Linked DNA regions of Homo sapiens: all the other regions are reported to be linked to region 2. The links are microRNA targets in miRTarBase. Many come from high-throughput screens and were not tested one by one. Region 2 holds a microRNA gene; each other region holds the end of a gene's coding sequence.

Region 1 (3,000 bases), not on the chromosome of region 2:
CAAAGTGCTGGGATTACAGGCGTGAGCCACCGTGCCTGGCCCCGTGTATCACTTTCATTGGCACATTCAATACATGAATGAGATGCATTCCCTTTAGACCCCACACCTCATTCCTAACTTGCCTCTGGTTAGCTTCATTCTTCAACATTGGTAATCCAAGTACCATTGGAAGATTAACTTAAAGAAATGCATCCCTTCCAGAGGGGCAAATCAGGATCTGCTGTCTGTATTTAGTGTCCGCTACCTCATTCTATAGTTCCTATACAGATCCAGCTTCTCTTCTGCTTTTAGAAAATTTCCGCCTCTTCCAGTTCTCTGATTTCCCCCTTCCACCCCACCTCCCACCACTATGAAGTTAACACCATTTTTATTTCTCTCTCAGGCCCACCTGCTCTTTCCCAGCTCTGCCGCCTGTGTGTCCGGAAGTGTCTCGGTCGAGCATGTCATCAAGCCATCCACAAGCTACATCTGCCAGAGCCACTCGAACGATTCCTCCTATACCAATAGTCCTAAGTGTTCCTGGGAAGATACTTGGAATGACACAGATTGTTGTCTGCTGTACCTAGAGTACCTAATGTAGAAGCTCAACAGCTTAGACTCCTAGTATCTTTAAATGAGCTCAGTCGAAGTAAATCCCCCATGAGCTAGAACACTTGAGGAGTGGAAACTCCTGGTTAGTTTAATGTTCTCATTAACCAAGGGGCAAGTAGAAACCATTTAGCTTTTAGCTCTTGTTGTTAAGAAACTTAAAAGAACTGTGAAGTAGAGTGAAAACAATAGGCTGTTTTTTGATGATTCGGGATCTTCTTGTACCTAAAAGTCAACATTCTGAATATTGTATAGACACATATAAATTCAGGTGGATAAGATTATAACAAATGTTAGGTATTCCAAGATATGTTCTTGATTTAGTTCCTTCCTTCAGCCCTTCCCCACTTTTTTTCTTTCTTTCCTTGAATAAATCTGGTATAATTTTGATTTTTTGTATATATATACGTATATATATATACATACATATACGTATATATATATACGTATATATATACACACACACACATGCACTCATATATTTAATGTTTTCAAAGTCCTTAATATATATAGTTCATATATGTTTTCAAAGTCCTTAATATATGTATAAAGCTTATATATATATGTTTTCAAAGTTCTTTATATATAAAGTTATATATATTTATATAGACTTTATATATATATACATATATAAAGTTAAGGACTTCAGAAACATTGTAGTTAACTGAGGCTTCCAGTTACTGCGGTCCTGGTTGATAAGAGAGACTTTGGAAGAGATCAGTGCACCCAGAGGTTGGCATCTATTGCTTATTGCTTCTGATATTAAATGCTGTTATTTGAAGTAAGCAGTTCTAGGATTGAGAACACTGGGTGTCCCCAACAACCTGAACCCACAGGCATTGTCTGAGGCATGTTGCAACCCAAGCACTGGCTTATTTTCAAAGTCAAGATGCTCAGGGTTTTTGAAATAATTACATACTGATGCCAGCCACCAAAGTGGGCTCAATGCTGGGTCAATATTTTTTTCTGTGGATAGGGGCCCAAAATAAGCACAAAGGTATATAAAAAGAGGCTTCTCCTTTTCTGTCTTCTCCTTCTTCTCATTTCTCTCTCCTTCTGTCACCCCTCCTCTTCCTCTATTCTTTCTCTTTTTTGTGAATTTAGAACATGGGAACTGGATAGACTTTTAATTATTGTAAGTATTACTGTCATGGTTCAGTATTCAGTTCTAAAATGAAAATTCCCTCTCAGATCATCCTAAGACTCATTTCACACATGTTTTTTTTTCCCCCAATTTTTCTAGACCTTTGGCTCTCAACTGGAGACAATTTTGCCCCACTCCCACTGAGACATTTGTCAATGTCTGCAGACATGTTTAGTTGCAACAACTGGGGGAGAATTGCTACTATCATCTAGACGGTGGAGATCAGGGATGCAGCTAATCACCCTACAGTGCACAGGAGCCAGCAACAAAGAATTATCAGATCTGGCCGGGCATGGTGGCTCACGCCTGTAATCCCAGCATTTTGGGAGGCCGAGGCAGGCAGATCGCACTGTCAGGAGTTCGAGAACCGCCTGGCCACTATGGTGAAACCCTGTCTCTACTAAAAATACAAAAGTTAGCCAGGCGTGGTGGCAGGTGCCTATAGTCCCAGCTACTTGGGAGGCTGAGGCAGGAGAATCACTTGAACCCGGGAGGCGGAGATTGCAGTAAGCCAAGATCACGCCACTGCACTCCAGCCTGGGTGACAGAGCGAGACTCCGTCTCAAAACAAAAAAAAAAAAAAGAAAGAAAGAAAGAAAGAAAAACAAACAAAAAAAAGAATTATCAGGTACAAAATGTCAATAGTGCCAAGAGTGAGAAACCCTTCTCTAAGCCTGTGCTATTCAATACAGTAGCTGCTAGCTACATATGGCTAATGAGCACAGGAATTGTGGATAGGCTGAATTAAGATGTGTTGTAAGTGTAAAATACATATTACATTTTAGTGATTGAGTAAAAAAAGAATATGAAACATTATGAACTTTGTTTTGTTTTCTTTTTTAGACGGAGTTTCACTTTTGTCATCCAGGCTCGAGTGCAATGGTATGACCTTGGCTCATTGCAACCTCTAAGCCTGTGCTATTCAATACGGTAGCTACTAGCCACATATGGCTAATGAGCACAGGAATTGTGGCTAGGCTGAATTAAGATGTGTTGCACGTGTAAAATACATATTACATTTTAATGACTGAGTAAAAAAAAGAATATGAAATACATGAACTTTTTTCTTTTCTTTTCTTTTTTGAGACGAAGTTTTGCTTTTGTCACCCAGGCTTGAGTGCAATGGCACGATCTCGGCTCACTGCAACCTCTGCCTCCCAGGTTCAAGCGATTCTCCTGCCTCAGCCTCTGGAGTAGCTGGGATTGCAGGCATCTGCCACTATGCCCGGCTAATTTTCGGTATTTTTAGTAGAGATGGGGTTTTACCA
Region 2 (3,000 bases):
CCAGGTGCTTGGCTTCCCTGACAGTGGGGCCGTAAGTGGGAGGGTCTGGAGTGTCAGCCTGATGGCCCCTGCAGGCGCTGGTGGCCTTCCTCCTTCCTGCTCTGCACCCAGGGGCCTTGGAACCCCCAGCCTCTCCCTGCCCCACCTGCTTGGGGGTCCTGGCTCCCTGGAGGGTGTGGAGGGTGTGTGGTAAGGACGGAGCAGCAGTGCCTGGCCTGCCACAGCTGAGGGAGCAGATGTCCTGTCCACAGCCGGCGGACGTCTGGTTGGGGAGACAGCTGGCCTCATCTTGCTCCCGCCCTGCTGCAGGCTGCAGAGGGCCCCAGTGCCTGCCCTGGCCTGGGACCTTCCGCCGGCTGCTGGGGTGGCCCGGGCTGGGGGTGCCCTGCTCTGGGGTTTGGCCATCAAAGAAGCGTGTGGGTGACTCTTCCCCTAGGAAAGAGCACACAGGCACGGATACCTCCTGGAGGCTCTGGACCCTGGGGCAGGGAGGAGGTGATGCCTGTGGGAGGGTGGGGGCTGCGGGAAAGCGACACCTGTTGACAGGCCTCGGTCGCGCCACCTGATCCCAGCTGCGGCACGGGCTCCCTTTGTGCATTGTGCTGGGCGGCGGGGTCAGGACCGGTGCAGTTGTCTGGGACCAGGGTGGCTCCCGCAGCAGTGTCTGTGGGACTGGGGACTGAGCCAGGCCCCCAGAACCCAGAAGGCCAGCCACGAGTGGGGGTTCCCCAGACCCCATGCCTTCTGGCTGGAAGTTGACCTCTGATGGGGCTGACCCCTAGGGTCAGGTGAGGCCCTTGGGGCACAGTGGTGCCATCTCCCCTGTGCTCCCAGGGCCTCGCCTGTCCCTTGAGGTCGGCCCCAGCTGCTGCTTCTTGCAGGAAGCCCAGTGACTGCCCAGATGCCTCCTTCTCTCCCTGCATGCTCAACTCTGGGGTTTGCCAGGAGGGTCCCCATGGAGTCTCCTCAGATGCATCCTTCTCTCCCTGGTTGCTCAACTCTGGGGTCAGCCAGGAGGGTTCCCGTGGGGTCTCTTCAGATGCATTCTATTCTCCCTGGTCGCTCAACTCTGGGATCAGCCAGGAGGGTCCCCTTGTGTTCTCCTCAGATGCATCCTTCTCTCCCTGGTCGCTCAATTCTGGGATTGGCCAGAAGGGTCCCTGTGGGGTCTTCTCCAAGCTGCATTCTGTGTGCCCTCCTATCCCAAGACTCCCTCAAGCCTGAGGCTCTCCCTGCCAGGTGGATCTGTGTCACTCATTCACCTGGCAGCCCAGCCCCGGGTCCTACAGGACTCTGACTCTGGCAGGGCTGTGTCTACACTTGTGGCCAGACGTAGTGCAGTGCAGACCTGGCTGCCAGGCTGCCGCACCTTCCCGTGTGTGGACGATAGGCCAGGTGTTGATGGCCCCACCAGAGCAGCCATGCAGAGTGCAGCCCCGGCGGGGACGTGACCCTGGTTTTCCTTCAGGGGTCATATTCAAGCACATCCGTGGTCCAGGCCGGGCAGGGTGGCAGGTGGCTGGGGATGGTCTTGCTGTGCCTGCTGACCTGGGTGGCACTGGGCCGCCCCGGCCCCGTGACCTGCAGCCTGGGCCCTCCCAGGAGCCTGTTGCCCTCCCGGCATGGTCCTGGCTGGCTGGGCGCCGCTGCCCGCCAGAGGAAGCCCAGCTGTCCAGCTGGCAGTTGCAGCACCTCAGGACCAGTGGCCGGATGGGACGATGGAAAAAGGCAAGCCGCAGGCTGCATTTGTTTTTTTTAGCGATACCTGAGGTCAGTGCAGCCAGGGGAAGTGGGCTGGAGGTCTGGCCCAGGAGGAGCTGCTGCCAGAGCCTCCCAGAGCTGGAGAACGTCAGGGCCGGCGTCCCTCCTGGCCAGATGGGGACAGAGGCTGCAGACCTGGAGTCACTGTGGGGTGGGGAGGGGAGCCAGGTGGACTTTGGGATGCTCCCTCTGTGACACCTACAGGAGAGTGAGCTCCAGAAGGGATGACAGTGTGGGAGGTGACACTGGTGGCCACTGGAAGGTTGCGTGGCTCTCCCTGTCCTGCTGACCAGTTGTGTGGGTCTGCGGCTGTCTGGGAAGGCCATGGGGGGCTGTGGTCACTGAGCACAGAGGCCTCCTGGAAGCTTCTGCTCTTCACCTTTCCCCCGGGGGGTCCTGCGTGCAGCCTTGGTTGCCTGTCTTGCAGCCCACAGACCAGCCATGCCCCTTCTGGGGTCCAGGACCCTGCCCCAGAAAAGGGCAGTCAGCCCAAGTAGCCTGGGGGAGCTGGGCTGGCCTCTGTGGTCTGGTTTGGGGGACCCCATGGATGCTGCAGACACAGACAGGGCAGGGCTTATTCCAGGGGCTGCCATGGGACACGGTGCTTTCAGCAGGGTGGAGGGGGGTGTTTCTCTCAGGCCCGAGGATGCTTCACCTGGCAGGCACCTGGGCATCTGCACAGGCCACCCGTGCCATCCTTGCGGCATGTGCCCCACCTCCTGGGTGCAGCTGGGCCCTGGTGGCGTTGCAGCCCTGAGGGACACAGCAGACGTGCTTGGGCTGGAAGCTGGGCTCGGGCTGGGTTGATTTGCAGACCACGGGGAGGGTGGAGAGTTGATCTCAGCCCCGGTTTCTCAGTGCTAGAATTTGTTTTGATTTTGTTTCACACAGAAATTAAACGCTGTCTGGCAGGACTGAGGTTTTGCTGGCGGGGTGTTGTGGCTTCTGGAACTGCAGTCTCTTCTCCCTCTGCCCCAGCCTGGGGGAGAAAGCTGGGTCCCGGTCAGGGTGGCTAGACCTGCTGGCAGGAGGCAGGAAGGTCGGAGTCCGGCCTTGGTGATGTGTGCTCCCTCCGTAGGACTTCCTGTCTATTGTGCTGGGAGCTGGAAGGAGCCTGTGGCTTTAGGGACCTGGCAGTGTGGGGTGGCTGTCCCTGTGTGTTTCAGGTTCTCTCTGGGGACAAGGCCCGTTTAGCTGCCCTCAGGCTCAGGGCAAGGTGTCTTGAGTGGGTCCTCCCAG
Region 3 (3,000 bases), not on the chromosome of region 2:
AAATATTGGAATTATTGGCATGAGTCACCATGCCAGATCAAGAAAATATTTATGTATAATTTTATCATACCTCATTGGTCCTAATGTTTTTTTGCTTGTTTAGGTCCCTTTCTAGAGATAGGAGAAGAGAGAGATCGCTGTCTCGGGAGAGAAATCACAAGCCGTCCCGATCCTTCTCTAGGTCTCGTAGGTAAGATCTTTGATAACTTGTATTTAAGACTTTGCATACATAGTATGCTAAGGCCTGTCTTCTAAGCCATAAATTTTTTACCTTAAAGTTCTATTTCGATATGTCACTAAAGTGTCACCAAGTTACAGATGTAATGTTTTGTTTTCTTTTTTTTTTTTTTTTTTTAGTCGATCTAGGTCAAATGAAAGGAAATAGAAGACAGTTTGCAAGAGAAGTGGTGTACAGGAAATTACTTCATTTGACAGGAGTATGTACAGAAAATTCAAGTTTTGTTTGAGACTTCATAAGCTTGGTGCATTTTTAAGATGTTTTAGCTGTTCAAATCTGTTTGTCTCTTGAAACAGTGACACAAAGGTGTAATTCTCTATGGTTTGAAATGGATCATACGAGGCATGTAATACCAAGAATTGTTACTTTACAATGTTCCCTTAAGCAAAATTGAATTTGCTTTGAACTTTTAGTTATGCACAGACTGATAATAAACCTCTAAACCTGCCCAGCGGAAGTGTGTTTTTTTTTAAATTTAAATACAGAAACAACTGGCAAAAATTGAACTAAGATTTACTTTTTTTTCCATAGCTGGGATATAGGCTGCAGCTATAGTTGAACAAGCAGTCTTTAAAAACTGCTGTGAAACACAGGCCATCAGGGAAAACGAAATGCTGCACTATTAAATTAGAGGTTTTTGAAAAATCCAACTCTCATCCTGGGCAGAGGTTGCCTAGTTGGTATAGAATGTTAAGTTTCAAGAAAGTTTACCTTTGCTTTAGGTCATAAGTTCCTTATTTGATTGCTGTATATGGATACATGGCTGTTCGTGACATTCTTTATGTGCAAATTTGTGATTTCAAAAATGTCCTGCCAGTTTAAGGGTACATTGTAGAGCCGAACTTTGAGTTACTGTGCAAGATTTTTTTTTCATGCTGTCATTTGTAATATGTTTTGTGAGAATCCTTGGGATTAAAGTTTTGGTTACAAATTGTTCTTTAACTTGAAAGCCTGTTTTTCCTTGCAAACTCAAATCTGTGAGCTTGGTACCAAGTCCAGGTATAACATTCCTATTGGAAGCCATACTTATATTTTCTTGTAAAGTGCTTTTGAATTAATAAAATATTAGCATAATTGTGTATAGTCAGTTGAACCCACTGTTACCATTGTTCTTATCCCATGGGAAGCAGTTGGTTACACGATTCTTATTTTATAAGAAACAGCTGAGAGGCACTATGGATTAGTCTTCTGAAGTGAAGGAAATATAGATGTCACCTAAGTGATAGTTAACCCATTTTTTTTTTTTTTAGGCATAGAAGCCAGTTCAGGGTCCATAATATTTAGTGACCAACATTTTAAAGTATAGCAGCAACCTGGTTCTTAAACACAAAGTAAGTTGCCCATTAACAAATGGCTTTTATCTTTAGCATGAAAACTTTCCACAGGTCTAAAAATTGCTTCCATTTTATAATTTGAGGTGTTGCATGGGAATTCTAAGCTGATCCATCATGATGTAAAAGTTCACAATATGGTTCAAATGTAACAGTGCAGAATTGAATATGGAGGCATGCATAACCTTCCTCTTAGAAAATGGCAGGTGTTGTAATTTCAAATTTTTGTGCAATTAGATTAAATCATAATGCAACAGTCTTGTGGCTTAGTTTCCTTAAATATGCTCTTAAGATAGTTTTGGATTATGCGGTATTGACTGTCTTAAATATGAAAGATAAGTCATTGCATTAAGAGTTCAAGCTAAATGGATACATTAAGATACAGTTCCTAAACAAATTATTTATTTCCACCTTTTACACAAATCTTGGGAGAATTGGTGTCAGGAAGGTTCAGCCTTAAAGTTAAGCATGTTCAAGAAAGACACTTTTCAGACAGCCTGTTTATTTACTGAGAGCTCTGGCATTGGGCATTTTGTCTTTAGTATTCTCACATAGCCTACAACCTGTTCCTGTTAGGAACAAGCCAAGATAGCTAAGAAGTTACGGAAGCCATGCAATATGTCAATTACATTGCTTTTTATAAATGGACAACTTATGTGGGCATTTTTGGGCAGTATATGACTTCCTTGCAGGCTCTTAAGTTGGAAGGGTTTCTGTAAAAAGGACAGTTACGGGTATAATATGGCTAAGAGAAATAATACAGAACCTGAAATAAAAGTAACTTCACCAGGGAGTTATCCTGACTTAGGTGACATACAGTCCCAGTTGGCAGTTACTTTAACCAGGAGCCCTAGCATAACCTCAAGACTCTTAGAAACTTTAGAACATGGAAATTGTTAAAAGCTTTGAATTGCACATTTAGATTGTGGCTATTAGGAATTTTTAAAGTTGTAATTCCTAAAATAACAGGTCACACTAACCGGTCTTGTCCATATTCAGGGTTGAGTGTAAAAATGAAAGGAATCACAAAACTGAACTTAGACCTGTGGTTTAAGGATCAAGGTGTTCACTAGAAGTCACTGTTACTAATACTTGATGACAATGTAAAGAAACATTAAGGATTATATTTGATTGTTTTCAAAGACACTGGCTGGATGTGGTGGCTCACACTTGTAATTCCTAGCACTTTGGGAGGCTAGGGCGGGTGGGAGGATCTCTTGAAGCCAGGAGTTGGAGACCAGTCTGCCCAACATGGCAAGATTCACATTTCTATTAAAAGGAATATTTAGTTTGATCTCTGGTTCACAGTTCATTGTGGGTTGCTTCTGACCTCCATGTCTTAAGCAGAAAGTAGGGAAGTTGTAGTTTTACCAAGCACAGGTACCCTGTGTCTACCATTTGAGTATCTTAGAGATCCTTACAAACGTGATC

The links. Region 2 holds the annotated microRNA hsa-miR-5008-3p (CCUGUGCUCCCAGGGCCUCGC, at 822-842, shown strand). A microRNA usually pairs through its seed, bases 2 to 8, with sites in the 3' UTR of a target mRNA and lowers its output. Matches are read on the target gene's strand: a 7mer-m8 pairs with bases 2 to 8, a 7mer-A1 pairs with bases 2 to 7 and ends in A, and an 8mer does both.
Region 1: the mRNA of ASB11 is a reported target of hsa-miR-5008-3p. The part of its 3' UTR that is shown has no 7-base or 8-base seed match.
Region 3: miRTarBase lists SRSF3 as a target of hsa-miR-5008-3p. Seed matches in the 3' UTR shown: 7mer-A1 at 656-662 and 7mer-m8 at 2,943-2,949.

What each region holds. Positions count from the first base shown.
Region 1 is chrX:15,281,012-15,284,011 of GRCh38, reverse strand. ASB11 (ankyrin repeat and SOCS box containing 11) reads left to right here. Exons shown (of 7, transcript NM_080873.3): 7 at 383-2,315. The coding sequence ends at 507. Among named protein-coding and RNA genes, the nearest start is that of ASB9, 12 kb to the right of the region's middle.
Region 2 is chr1:227,939,452-227,942,451 of GRCh38, reverse strand. MIR5008 (microRNA 5008) reads left to right here and starts at 769; the gene lies at 769-862. All of the region lies in intron 1 of WNT9A (Wnt family member 9A), which reads left to right. RefSeq lists an enhancer at 1-322.
Region 3 is chr6:36,601,605-36,604,604 of GRCh38, forward strand. It overlaps SRSF3 (serine and arginine rich splicing factor 3), which reads left to right. Exons shown (of 6, transcript NM_003017.5): 5 at 104-190; 6 at 358-3,000. The coding sequence ends at 385. Among named protein-coding and RNA genes, the nearest start is that of SRSF3, 8.7 kb to the left of the region's middle.